Homo sapiens: one gene and its partners. The protein of the gene in region 1 purifies or fractionates together with the protein of each later gene. This does not show direct contact. Each region holds a gene or a part of one and is shown on either strand. Other genes may lie near its edges.

Region 1 (3,500 bases):
GAAAAGATCTGGCCACAAACCTCACCATCTGAATCCTTGCACTAACTTAAGGAGGTCTGCACAGGCTTCCCTGAGGGCAAGGAGGACGGTGGCTGCTTACCTCGGCGCAGTGTATGCGGGCTGGGCCCTGCAGCATTGTGAGGTTGGCCCATGGAGAGCTGGTGGGAGCCAGCAGCTGCCTGGGGCTGATTTTGGCCAGATGCTATCTGACTGTTGTTTCTCCCTGGTGCTGGCACAGCTGCAGATACAGGGTCCTTCGGTTTGGGAGGACTAAGAGGAGTAAAAGTCAAGTTAGACGTCAGACAATCCCAGCTAGAAAATCTGAACATACTGCACATAAAACATAAGATTCCAAGCAGAGTTTTCACTTCGGCAGGCAGGAAAAGGATCTGAAATTCTAACTAGCTCACACTGGGCTTATAAAGCTAATGTTTACTTGGTGCCATATAAAGAGCTAATGTTTACTTGGTGCCATTTTTTTTTTAAGAGATGAGGTCTTGCTATGTTGCCCAGGTTGGTCTCAAATTTCTGGACTCAAGCAATCCTCTCCTGCCTCAGCACCCTGAGTAGCCGGGACTATAGGACTATTTATTTTATGAGATTCGTTGCATCAGACTGGACTCCAACGACTCTGCCACTCCAGTATCATCAGAGAGACCATTTCAAAGCAACCAATGCGGAGTTTTCAGTTCTACTGCGTTTGGACTTAAATTGGGCAGTACTTAATACCATGAAATGGCTTTTACATGTTGACATATACACTGTACAAAACTAAGCAAAAGCCATGGCAAAATAAGACCCTAAATGATAAAGGGCTTGATTATTATCAATAACTTGGACTGAAGAAGGAGAACTCAGAGGCTAAATGACTACTCGAAGTCCAGAGTTGGTAGCAGCAGGATAGAGATCAGAATTCAGGCTTCCTGTTTCCTGGCCCAGAACTTTTTATACCAAACTCTGTAGCTCCATTTTGTCAAGGTCACCAAAGAGTGAATAACATTAGTGTAATGTACATAAAAATACCTACAGAATACAGTATAAAAAACAAACAGCAGGCCAGGCACAGTGACTCACGCCTGTAACGCCAGCACTTTGGGAGGCTGAGGCACATGGATCACTTGAGGTCAGGAGTTCAAGACCAGCCTGGCCAACAAGGTGAAACCCCGTCTCTACTAAAAATACAAATATTAGCCAGGCGTGGTGGCGCATGCCTGTAGTCCCAGCTACTCTGGAGGCTGAGGTGGGAGAATCGCTTGAACCCAGGAGGTGGAGGTTGCCGTGAGTCAAGATCATGCCACTGCACTCCAGCCTGGCTGACAGAGCGAGATGCTGTCTCAAAAAAAAAAAAAGCAAAGTAACTGACATTCCATTTGTCCTTCTGCATTAAGACTAATTATTGTCTTAAATAATACATTTAGCCTTGATTAAACAAATGGAATGTCACAAGGAAATGAAAATATGTAAATTGGCTGGGCATGGTGGCTCATGCCTGTAATCCCAGCACTTTGGGAGGTTAGGGAGGGAGGACTGCTTGAGACCAGGATTGAAGACCAGCCTGGGCAACACAGTGAGACCTCGTCTCTACAAAAATTTAAAAAAATTAGCTGGGCATGGGGATGCACTACTATAGTCCCAGTTGGGAGGCTGAGGTGGGAAGATCGCTTGAGCCTGGGAGATTAAAAGGCTGTAGTGAGCCATGATCACACCACTGCCCTCCAGCGTGGGTGACAGAGCAAGACCCTGTCTGAAAAAAAAAAAACAACAAAAAACAGGCCGGGGCAGTAGCTCACGCCTGTAATCCCAGCACTTTGGGAGGCCAAGGCAGGTGGATCACTTGAGGTCAGGACATCGCGACCAGCCTGGCAAACATGGTGAAACCCCATCTCTACTGAAAATACAAAAATTAGCCAGGCATGGTGGTCCATGCCTGTAATCCCAGCTACTCCGGCGGCTGAGGCAGGAGAATCATTTGAACCCAGGAGGCAGAGGTTGCAGTGAGCCAACATTGCACCACTGCACTCCAGCCTGGGCAACAGAGCGAGACTTCGTCTCAAAAAATAAATTAATAAATAAAAATAAATAAAAATAAAAAACAAAACCAAGAAAAAGAAAATAAGTGAATTTGCTTAGACTTTTTTCCTTCAAACAAAAAAATTTAAACCAAAACAAGTACATGCATAGGGCACAATTATTGACAAGCTAACGTGCAGCCTATGAGGTGCACGGGAAGCCCTAAGAAGTCTGAAGTCTTAATTTTTTTTAACCCCAAAGTAAACTTTCCCAAGGTGAAGAAAATGGAATTCAGGAATGCACAAAGCATTCAGCATTCAGTTTTAATGGTGAAACAAGATTCCTATCTCACGAGCAGCTTCACACACAACAAGGCTCTCCCTTGCTCATCCCAAGGACGATGAGAAAGGAGTTCTTTCAAGGCAAATTCATCTCTCTGTGTGGGAAATAAACGTGTGGATAAACAGCCTGTCCTTGTTTTGTGCACATTTATTTTACTTCATATATGATCATTCGGTGTGTTGTGGATGGCCAATGCAGAACATATGACAACAAAAATTTTGGCACACATGTATGCAAAGCTAAGCAGCTGTCAGTTCCAAACCACAAGAGATGCCACCTGAAGTAGCCTCTGGTGGTCATCTGCCTGGATCAGTGTGGAGAACTGAATTAATGTCAATTAAATAAAAATCTCAAGTTATGGCTGGGCGCGGTGGCTCACACCTGTAATGCCAGCCTTTGGGAGGCCAAGGCAGGGGGATCACCTGAGGTCAGGAGTTTGAGACCAGCCTGACCAACATGGCGAAACCCTGTCTTTACTAAAAATACAAAAAAATTAGCCTGGCATGGTGGTGTGTGCCTGTAATCCCAGCTACTCCGGAGGCTGAGGCAAGAGAATCACTTGAACCCGGGAGACGGAGGTTGCAGTGAACCGAGATTGCACCACTGCACTCCAGCCTAGGCGACAGAGTGGGACTGTCTCAAAAAAAAAAACCTCAAGTTCAAGGTGACTTTTCTTAAAAGTTGCTATCCATTTGCAGCCCACTCCAGGTGGCTTATCCAAAGGTTAAGCAACTAAAAGAGCCTTTTAAGAAAATCTACCAGCTAGGCATGGTGGCTCATGCCTGTAATCCCAGCATTTTGGAAGGCTGAGGCAGGAAGATCACTTGAGGCCAGGAGTTCGAGATCAGCCTGGGCAACCTAGGGCATCTATGTTTACCCCATCTTTACAAAAATAAAAAAATTAGCTGGGCATGGTGACAAGCACCTGTAATCCCAGCTACTTGGGAGGCTTAGGTAGGAGGATTGCTTGGGCCTAGGAGGCGGAGGGTGCAGTGAGCTACGATTATGCCACTGCACTCCAGCCTGGGCAACAGAGCAAGACGCAGTCTCAGAAAAAAAAAAAAAAAAAAGAAAAAAGAAAAGCTACCATCTTATTTTCCACCTTGGACTCATGGATCAACTGCCCTACAAGACTGAAATCTGGGGGT
Region 2 (3,500 bases), on another chromosome or scaffold:
TCCTTCCTGAATCTTTGAAGCTTCCATTATTGAAAGCTCTCCACAGCTCATCATGGAACAGACAAAGTGATCCAAATTATGAAAAAATACTGGTGGGGTGACTATTCTGACATTACTAAAATGGCTTATAATCAATGTTTGACTTGTCAAACTCATAATCCCAGAAAAACTAGAGGCAGTATATTTCCACCACCTGATGGACCATTTGAACATTTACAGATGGACTTCATTCAGTTACCACCCTCAATGGGGTATCAGTATGTTCTTGTAATAGTTTGCATGTTTTCTGGTTGGATAAAGGCCTTCCCATGTAGGAAAGCTGATGCTGTGACCATAGCTAAGAAATTATTAGAAAATGTTTTTCCTTTATGGGGGATCCCTCTAAAAGTCTCCAGTGATAGAGGAACTCATTTTACTGAGCAAGTTATAAAGCAGTTAAATAAGGTGTTACTGACACAGTTGCATTACCATTGTCCTTATTACCCTCAGTCTTCAGGAAAGCTTGAAAGAACAAATGGCATTTGAAAACTGAAACTGTCCAAGTTAACTGAATCAATTGAGTTGCCTTGGCCAAAGGTACTACCTTTTGGTTTTAATGGCAATCAGATTCAATCCTGTTGGAAAACATAAATTGACCCCTTATGAAATAGTCACTGGGAGGCCCATGTCCCTAATAATAGCATCTCATGCTTCTCCTGCTCTCTTAAACTCTGATATGACTAAATACTGCAAGGCTTTAATGTATTACGCCAAAGTATACTTCCACCAGGTAAAGGAAGCATTTCAAGATCCACCAACTGAGGACAATCAAACCCTCCATGGTCTGGAATTTGGAGACTGGGCCTTCCGGAAATGACATCAGAAGAAGATCACTCTTGAACCTCGTTGGATGGGACCATACCAAGTCCTTCTTACCACCCACAGTGCAGAGAAGCTTCAGGGCTTTGAACCATGGGTCCACATCTCACAATTCAAAAGGGCCCCCTCAGACTCCTGGTACTATATACCCGTTGGAGACTTTAAGGTAAAGCTGACCAGGGAAATCTCTTCCCAGAAGCAGACAGCATCCTGGTTACAGACAGCTTTCCCTAGATCACAGATCAAGACTTCTCTACCACCATGAAAGCCTTATGTGTTTTTCTGTTTTCCTTATTTTTTTCCCTAATCCTTTCCTTTTCCTTACATGAAAATCCATGGGACCATAATCAGTGGATGGCTTCAGCTCAAGCTTATGCTCTAGCACAAAACCAGGGTAACTGTTGGGTTTGTGGGCTAATGCCAAAAAATCAGGAAATGATTCCAAGGGTGCCAGTGCCCCTCCACGTTTCCCAATGAGTCACCCTGAAACCCCAAGGGAAGAATGGAAAGCTATTCTTGATACTCTAAACATCACTAGTACTTGCTTTCCTACACTCACTAAAAACAACACTCTTTTTCAACTGATAAAGTCGATCACACCAAATATAAAAAACAAATCCAAATGATGCCTACAAAACGTATATTGTGCTTGCAGGCATCACATACTCAAGATTTGGGAATTACTTATGTTAGTACAAGTGATTGCTTGTATATCCAGTAGGGTCTCTTTTTACTAGATGTGGTTATACACCCTTACAACACACTACAAAGGGGCCATAGAAAAGTAAATTTCCCACTGGATGTTATTCAGGAGCTACAGATTCATGGTCGAACAAACCTGAATGATCCCTGCTCAAATACAACTAGGTGGCCCCCTTTTCCAACCCCTGAGGGTCTCTATTGGGTCTGTGGAGAATCTGCATATTCTGTTCTGCCTCCTTGGTTGGTTTGGTTCTTGTTATCTGGCCTGGCCTGCTCCTGCCTTTCGAATTGCTTCCCCTGAAAATTCTCATGATAGCCCTTATACTTGGAGGCCAAAATGATCAATAACTGAAATTAGCACTAGCCTCGAAATAGACGAGGATAAGCTAGTTTCTACCGGGGAAAGATTCCACTGGGGTTCCTGGGGGCTCACTCTTGGTGGTAGTGAAGTACCATTTGTACGGAATTTAAAACTAATTTGTATATTGGGAAAATTCTTGGATTTGGTAGCCAATCAGACCTCCCAGGGTTTCAGATGGGTAGAAGCTACTCTCAGAAAGGCACATGACAACATACATATTCAACGAAAACACTTAATGGAAGATCATGCAGTCTTAGATCTTCTTTTTGCTCAAGCTGGAGGCCTATGTTTGGTGTTAAACAAAACTGAATTTTGTACTAATCCCTCCCCTGATTCTGTTACTACAAAAAGCTTAATTTAAAAGGTGGCTGATACTGCTGTTTCCTTAGACACTGCCACCAAGTACAATAAAGAAATCTCTCAAGAGAAAGGAACCCACGATATGTTTATAGGAGCAACTAACAGTTGGTTTGCAGGCATCCTAAGTGGTGAATGGCAAGCTTGGGTTTTCCAAGGGTTTCTAATCTTTATATCTCTTCTAGCAGGTTTTCAAGTTATTATGACTTGTATTAACAAGGTAACAATGAAAACGAGCACCTCTTTAAGTCAAGCTACTTTACAGCGAACTATGATCCTTAATCACTATCATACTCCAACTGAAGACTCTGACCAATCAGACCCCAATACTGCTGAACTGCTTATATTGTCTGAACCTTAACTTGGCTGATTTGGTTCAGTTCATTTCATAAGAACTTTTATTAAGGAGTACACCTTAGCATTTTGACGGTGTCCTCTTAACAGTCATAATAATAGTCCCCTTGGTGCACTGTATACTCTCAAGTCTTAAATGTTTTGTATGCAGCTGTACATTGACAGTTGAATGGTCTTACTCCAACTGGATCAGCAAGAACATAAAGAATCATTTAGCTGGTACAAAGTTGCAACTTGTGAATTCCCTATTAACACCAAAGAAGATGTGTGAGACTCCATACTGAAACTAAAGACGACTTGTGAGTTCCACACTGAGACCAAATAAGTCTTTATGATGGTGACAGAGAGTGGTGTCAACGCCTAAAGTTTTGGTCAATCTCTCTAAATTGAGGGGCTGACCAAAAGGGGGAATTGTTAAAGCGAACTAAATATGGCCCGAAGAGGACTCCGTACTTTTATATTTGAGTCCTTGTGGACGAACTGTAACCTAGCTCAAATAGGCAGACAAAATCGAAAACCTAACTTAGTAGTATGCATCTGTAATAACAGCTGAGTGTTGGCCAATCCCAGCGGCCATACTTCAACCACTCATAGACTGCTGAGTGTTCAAACTGCGTTCAAATAAGGCAAACGCCGAGCTGTAACCAATCTCACTGTTTCTATGTCTCAATTCTGATTCCTGTAGGTCACTTTACCTTTTCTGTCTATAAATTTGTTCTGACCACGAGGCACCCCTGGAGTCTCTCTGAATCTGCGGTGATTCTGGAGACTGCCCAATTTGTGGATCATTTTTTTTCTTTGCTCAATTAAACTCCATCAAATTTAACTTGTCTGAAGTTTTCTTTTAATTCTATGTTTTGCCCAAGGT
Region 3 (3,500 bases), on another chromosome or scaffold:
TCTGTAACTAATAAGCGATGTGATCCTTCTTCATTTAAATACACTCCTTGTTAGATTATGGCATTAGACTAAATGAAAAAGTCCCATTCAGATAAAAGTCTATTATGCCCTCCCTACATATTATTATAGTATAGAATAATCTAAAGTTTTACAAACTAGTCTGGGAAATCCAATCCTTCCTTTTTTTAAAAAGGCCGAGAGAAGGAAACTGTACGTTTGAATAATGTATGCATTTCCTAGATCAAATGTGCCAGTTACTCAGGAAGTGAAATACAGAGGTGCCAAGACTCTTGCCCTCTGCTACTGAAAGAGCAGCCACTGATTGCTATGTGTGATACAAAAGAAATTTAAGAACTCAAGAGAGCACTTCTGACACAGCTTATTATTGCCATACATGACATCATAATTCAACAAGTCATTATATAGGGGTTTCAGATAACACTTATTTTGTATATCTGTCTTAAACACATTTCTAACATCACAAAACATAAATCAGGAAGATATCTGCTGCTGCTGCTATCAACAGATGCTGACCTGTACCATAATGATACTCAATAAATTGGTTCTAATTTCTTTAGATTATTAATTCCATAGATAATTATTCTGCATATGTCAACCAAGATTATGATTTCCTATTACTGTTTCCTTTCTGGACAGCCTCAATGAGCTTTAATAATAGCAGTTCATTTTAAGCCAGTTAGGTCTGACAAAACTTGGCAAGATATATTGCAATTGAGAGTTATTCATAATAAAAAGAGAAAAGAAGGGGCTGGGCATGGTGGCTCATGCCTGTAATCCCAGCACTTGGGAGGCCAAGGTGGGCGGATCATCAGAGGTCAGGAGTTCAAGACCAGCCTGGCCAACATGGTGAAACTCTGTCTCTACTAAAAATACACAAACACACACACACACACACACACAAATTCAGCCAGGCATGGTGGCGGGCGCCTGTAATCCCAGCTACTTGGGAGGCTGAGTCAGGAGAATGCTTGAACACAGGAGGCAGAGGTTACAGTGAGCCAAGATCGCACCACTGTACTCCAGCCTGGGCGACAGAGCAAGACTCTGTCTCAAAAAAAACAAAAAACAAAAGAGAAAAGAAGGAAAAGAAAAATACTGCACATCACTCTATTCTGAAAAGATCCCTACTTTAAATATGAAAATAGGCCGGGTTCGGTGGCTCATGCCTGTAATCCCAGCACTTTGGGAGGCCAAGGCGGGCAGATCACCTGAGGTCAGGAGTTCGAGACCAGCATGGCCAACATAGTGAAACCCCATCTCTGCTAAAAATACAAAAATTAGCTGGATGTGGTGGCATGCACTTGTAGTCTCAGCTACTAGGGAGGCTGAAGCAGGAGAACTGCTTGACTCTGGGAGGCGGAGGTTGCAGTGAGCCCAGATGGTGCCACTGCTTGCCTCGGTGACAAGAGTGAGACTCCAAGTAAAAAGAACAGAAAAAGCTCCATTTTAAAAGGGATAGATGTGGCATTTTGCTCTTTCTCCCACTTTCTTCCTTTTTAAGCTACTTCATTTTCCAGTTAAGTAGTTCCAGAGATTGTTCACCATGAACCTATATTCCTTTGGTCTTCAGATTAAACCAGCCTTTTATTCTTAATCAATAATGAAAGTTGGGGGTTAAATAACCACTAAAGGATAAGTAAGTTATTTCATTCTTAGGTTGAAACAATCTGTGTAAGTTAATTGCTTTGATATTCTGTTTTGCATACAACGAGAATCAACAAGTTTCAATGTAACACTTCGATTAATTCTATCCATGAAAAAAATGGCTTTTCTTTTACAGAATTCCAGATTCTGCATGAATAGCAGGAAAAAAATGTTGAGAAAACATGTCTTGGCTGGGCATTGTGGCTCACGTCTGTAATCCCAACACTTCGGGAGGCCGAGGCGGGTGGACCACTTGAGCTCAGGAGTTCGAGACTAGCCTGGGCAACATAGTGAAAGCCATCTCTACCAAAAGTACAAAAAAATTAGCCGGATGTGGTAGTATGCATCTGTGTTTCCAGCTACTAGGGAGGCTGAGGTAGGAGGACTGCTTGAGCCCAGGCAGTCAAGGCTGCAGGAGTCGTGATCACATCACTGCACTCCAGCCTGGATAATAGAGCCAGATCCCACCTCAAAAAAAAAAAATGTCTTAACTTCTGACATTTATTCTCAAAAGACAAAAGTCATTTACTCAGGAGGGATGGATTATTGTAGATAAGTAAGTAGGAGTATATTCCAACCCTCCTCTGTTATGTTTCCTCAGTTTGCAGAGCTACTTTTGAAGTTCAGGGCTTATACACAGAAGAGATACAGGGAACAGCACAATGCACAGAGAATCAAGCTGTTTAAATTCAAAGACAAACTATATTTCCTCATTTCTCTTCCTGCAAAAAAACTGTAAACATAAAGTAGGTTGCAGATACAATATCAACTTCCGTATGTTCTGTAAAAAATTAAGGGAAAACATGGAATGATAGCCAAACTATAAAGCATACCTGTGATGAAATATTGAGAGAAAAATGAAACTGTGTTCTTTCTCAAACTGCTATGCTTTAAAGTTAAGAATAACAGATGCAATACATCAAGCTTCCATGTTAATTCAACACTTTAAAGTTTCATTTTTAAATAGCTTTATTGATATATAATTCATATACAATTCACTCATGTACACAATTGGATGGTTTTAGTTTATTCACAGATTTGTACAATTATCACCACAAACAATTTTAAAACATACTTATGCCCTCAAAAAGAAACTTGGTACTGATTAGTAATCACCATTCCCTCATAAATCCTCATCTCCACATCTAAGGAATTACTAATCTGCTTTCTCTCCTATGGATTTACCTATTCTGGACATTTTATATAAATGAACCAATATATGGCCTTTTGTGACTGGCTTCCTTCGCTCAGCATAATTTCTTCAAGGTTCATCCATGTTGTAGCATATATCAGTACTGTAGGCTTTTAAAATTATCAAATAATATCCCATCATACATACATATTTTGTCTTTGATTCATCACCTGACAGACATTTGGGTTGTTACTACTTTCTAGCTACTGTGAATGCTGCTGCTATGAACATTCATGTAGACATTCTTATGTGAATATATGTTTTCAGTCCTTTTGGATATATACTTTGGAATGCAATTGCTTGACTGTATGGTAATGGAGACTGACTTTTAACAGATCTAGCTGAGTAAATGTCTAACAGAACAATATACTCTAAAAGAAGGGTTACACATACTTTTTAAAAAGCACTTGCCCTACTCCATACTAAGTTAAGTAAACCCACCTATAACTATAAAAAAAATTCTGAAACTGAAATTATTTTCTACTTTTTATTTTAAAAAGGTGCAGAGTTGGCTGGATGTGAAGGCTCACACCTGTAATCCCAGCACTTTGGGAGGCCGAGGCAGGCAGATCACATGAAGCCAGGCGTTCAAGATCAGCCTGGCCAACATGGCAAAACCCTGTCTCTACCAAAAATACAAAAA
Region 4 (3,500 bases), on another chromosome or scaffold:
ATAGTGTCTCCTGCTAGAACATTAAGTTCTATGAGGACACTAATACAACCCCATTGGCTACAGAGAGTGATGACAGAGAAAGAGAACTAACAAAAGGCTCCTGGAAGGTCCTCAACCTACCCCAGAGATGGTGCACCACGTAGAGCTCTCCTATCTGTGAGAAGAAGCCGCCCACTGCCTCCTGGTTCTCCTGCCGGTACTTGATGGCCCGAGCCCTGGAGAAGGCACAATAATATGGGGCAGAAGCCAGGGCTGGTGCAGAGGGTACTGAGGCTGATTCCTTGGCCACACTTCACAGGAGGGGCCTAGGTGGAACCCACGGTCCTCCGGGATGCTGAGAGAAAGGACTGATGGCGGGGTGTTCTACCAACGGAGGGGTCACAACCTTCTAGGAGATCCTCACCTCCTGGCTGGATCCTTCTCCCAGATCCATGAGGGGCAGAAGGTAAAGAGTTCCCTGTGATATGGCCCTGGAAAAGGTGGCCCACCAGGGGCCTTGGTGGGGCAGGTGAGCAGGGTACGCCTCCCCCAACCCCAGTCTTGGTGCTGCCACTTACCAGTTGTTCCCCCACTCGATCATGGTTCCTGGCTGAAAGAGAACCAAAGGGATGATGGGAATGAGCCCCCACCTCAGATTCATAGCATCACAGCTTGGCAAGGAAGGGAAACTGCCCTGTCTCCCCACCTCCCAAGCTGCAGCGGCCATTTGGCCTCATTCGCAGGCCCTGACACACACCTGGTGTGCATGTTTGCACACATGTGTATACAACTCTGCTCTGAGCCCATAGGGAGGGAGAAGCCAGAAGCCCCAGTCTAGGTGTTGGGGCAGCTGCAAAGCAGCATTGCAGCAGGGAAATTGGGGGGCAGGAGGGGGTCTGTCGGAGGGAGGCACCTTGAGCTTGTATGTCCTCAGCTCATAGATGTTGGGACCCATTCTGGGCTGTGGCTCATTCCAGAAGCTGAACTCGAGGAGCAGCTGGTTTCTCCTGGACAGCAGCATCTGGCTCCGCTCCCTTCGGAACTCCAGGTACTCCTGTGGGCATGGTGGTAAAGGCATGGCTACCAGGAAGTGCGCTCCATCCTGACAGTGTGCCTCATGGGGTAGCAGAGTAGTCCCCAGAACAGGGCTGGGCTGCATCCCACATCCAGAGAGGTGTGCTGAGTGGACACTAACATACCTTATTGTTTTTGAGCTTGTTCATGCAGTCCATGAGGGCTGGGTAGCCACCTGAGAATCGCCACAGGTGCACTGTTGGGGGTGAGAGGTATAGGTCAGTGAGCTGCTGGGACCCCCAGCAGATGACCTCCTCAAGGTTGGCTAAGTGGTGGGGACGGGGGAGGCGGGGTGGCCTGGTTCCCTGTAGCAGCAAGACTCCCTGAGTTCCCTCTGCCTTGGTGGAAGACCATGCTGGGGAGGGGATGACCCTAGACACAAGTCTAGGAGACCTGGATTTGAGCTCCAGCTCTGCCCAGCAGCCTTGGACTGCTCTAGGCCTCAATGTTCTCATCTTGAAAATGGGAATAATGTTCCCACCCCACCTTCCTTAAATAGCAACAAGAAGATCAGATGTGTCCTGTACCCTGGAAGCAGTGGCATGCATAAGGAAGACCACCAGGCCTTAGAGGGGCAGCTGAACAAAAGAACAGGGGAGAACTGATGGGCTGATATGGAACATTCCAAGACAGTGAATTGAAAAAAGGAACCAAGGAACAGAAGAGGATGTGTGGTATGCTACCTCATGTGTTGAGGTGGCAAGGACATCCAGAGATGCTAATTTATGCATCACCTCTTAATGGCGACTTAAGAGATTGACAGTAGACCAGGCGCAGTGGCTCACACCTGTAATCCCAGCATTTTGCGGGGCTGAGGTGGGTGGAGACCAGCCTGACCAACATGGAAAAACCCCATCTCTACTAAAAATACAAAATTAGCCAGGTGTGGTGGCGCATGCCTGTAATCCCAGCTACTTGGGAGGCTGAGGCAGGAGAATCACTTGAACCTGGGAGGCAGAGGTGGCGGTGAGCCAAGATTGTGCCATCGCACTCCAACCTGGGCAACAAGAGCGAAACTCCGTCTCAAAAAAAAAGAGATTGACAGTAGATGCCCCTGGGACACAGAATGGAGGCCTGTGGGGCCTCGGGCAGGAGGGAAGCTTACTTTGCATGGAAAACTCTTTGTACTGTTAGAATTTATAAAAATCCTGGGCCGGGCACGGTGGCTCACGCCTGTAATCCCAGCACTTTGGGAGGCTGAGGAAGGTGGATCACGAGGTCAGGAGATCGAGACCATCCTGGCTAACACAGTGAAACCCCGTCTCTACTAAAAATACAAAAAATTAGCCAGGCGTGGTGGCGGGCACCTATAGTCCCAGCTACTCGGGAGGCTGAAGCAGGAGAATGGCATGAACCCAGGAGGCAGAGCTTGCAGTGAGCCGAGATCATGCCACTGCACTCCAGCCTGGACAACAGAGCGAGACTCCATCTTAAAAAAAAAAAAAAAAAATTAGTTGGGTGTGGTGGCACATGCCTATAATCCCAGTTACTCGGGAGGCTGAGGCAGGAGAATCGCTTGAACCCAGGAGGTAGAGGTTGCAGTGAGTCAAGATTGTGCCAGTGTACTCCAGCCTGGGTGGCAGGGTGAGACTCCGTCTCAAGTAAATAAATAATCAACTTTGGGAGGCTGAGGCAGGTGGATCATCTGAAGTCGGAAATTTGAGACCAGCCTCACCAACTTGGCGAAACCCCATCTCTACTAAAACAAAAATTAGCTGGGCGTGGTGATGCACATCTGTAATCCTAGCTACTCAGGAGGCTGAGGCAAGAGAATCGCTTCAACCTGGGATGCAAAGGTTGTGGTGAGCTGAGATCGCACCACTGCACTCCAGCCTGGGCAAAAGAGCAAGACTCCGTCTCAAAAAATAAATAAATAAAAATAAAAATAAATAAAAATCATATTATCTGCACTGAGTTGAACAATGTCCCCTCAAAATTTATGCCCACCCAGAACCTCAGAATGTGACCTTATTTGGAAATAGGTCTCTGTGGGTATAATCGACCTAAGATGAGATTATACTAGGTGAGCCCTGAGTCCAGTGACTAGTGTCCTTATCAGAAGTGGGAGATCTGGACACAGGAGAACACTATGTGAAGACAGAGACACACAGAGAGAACAGCATGTGACGAGGGAGGCAGAGATTAGAATGACAAGTCTACAAGCCAAGGAACACTAAGAGTTTCCAGCAATCCCCAGAAACTGGAAGAGGCAAGGAAGGGTTCTCCCCTAAGGCCTTAGGAGGAAGGACAGCCCTGTCAACACCTTGATTTGTGACTTCCAGCCTCCAGAACTGTGACAGGATAAACCTCTGTTATTTTAAGCCACCCAGTTTGCGGTATGCTGGCCACCCCAGGAAACTAATCTAATTCCTAGTAACAAAGAAACCTAATTAATTGTGGAGGAGAAGAAAGGAACAGTTTTGCCATCCTGGGAGCATGGCTGGGCC

The links. The genes of interacting proteins can lie anywhere in the genome.
Region 2: the proteins of ARHGAP17 (region 1) and OPA1 fractionate together in Homo sapiens (co-fractionation; one large-scale study listed by BioGRID). This does not show direct contact.
Region 3: the proteins of ARHGAP17 (region 1) and PALS1 purify together in Homo sapiens (affinity purification with mass spectrometry; 2 studies listed by BioGRID, with this or other methods). This does not show direct contact.
Region 4: the proteins of ARHGAP17 (region 1) and NIPSNAP1 purify together in Homo sapiens (affinity purification with mass spectrometry; one large-scale study listed by BioGRID and IntAct). This does not show direct contact.

The regions. Positions count from the first base shown.
Region 1 is NC_000016.10:24,935,370-24,938,869, forward strand, and holds part of ARHGAP17 (rho GTPase-activating protein 17), read right to left. Parts: intron 271-3,500; coding exon 101-270; intron 1-100. UniProt on the Homo sapiens protein: Rho GTPase-activating protein involved in the maintenance of tight junction by regulating the activity of CDC42, thereby playing a central role in apical polarity of epithelial cells.
Region 2 is NC_000003.12:193,599,708-193,603,207, reverse strand, and holds part of OPA1 (dynamin-like GTPase OPA1, mitochondrial), read right to left. Parts: intron 1-3,500. UniProt on the Homo sapiens protein: Dynamin-related GTPase that is essential for normal mitochondrial morphology by mediating fusion of the mitochondrial inner membranes, regulating cristae morphology and maintaining respiratory chain function.
Region 3 is NC_000014.9:67,303,935-67,307,434, reverse strand, and holds part of PALS1 (protein PALS1), read right to left. Parts: intron 1-3,500. UniProt on the Homo sapiens protein: Plays a role in tight junction biogenesis and in the establishment of cell polarity in epithelial cells.
Region 4 is NC_000022.11:29,560,614-29,564,113, forward strand, and holds part of NIPSNAP1 (protein NipSnap homolog 1), read right to left. Parts: intron 1,250-3,500; coding exon 1,179-1,249; intron 1,034-1,178; coding exon 893-1,033; intron 590-892; coding exon 558-589; intron 216-557; coding exon 121-215; intron 1-120.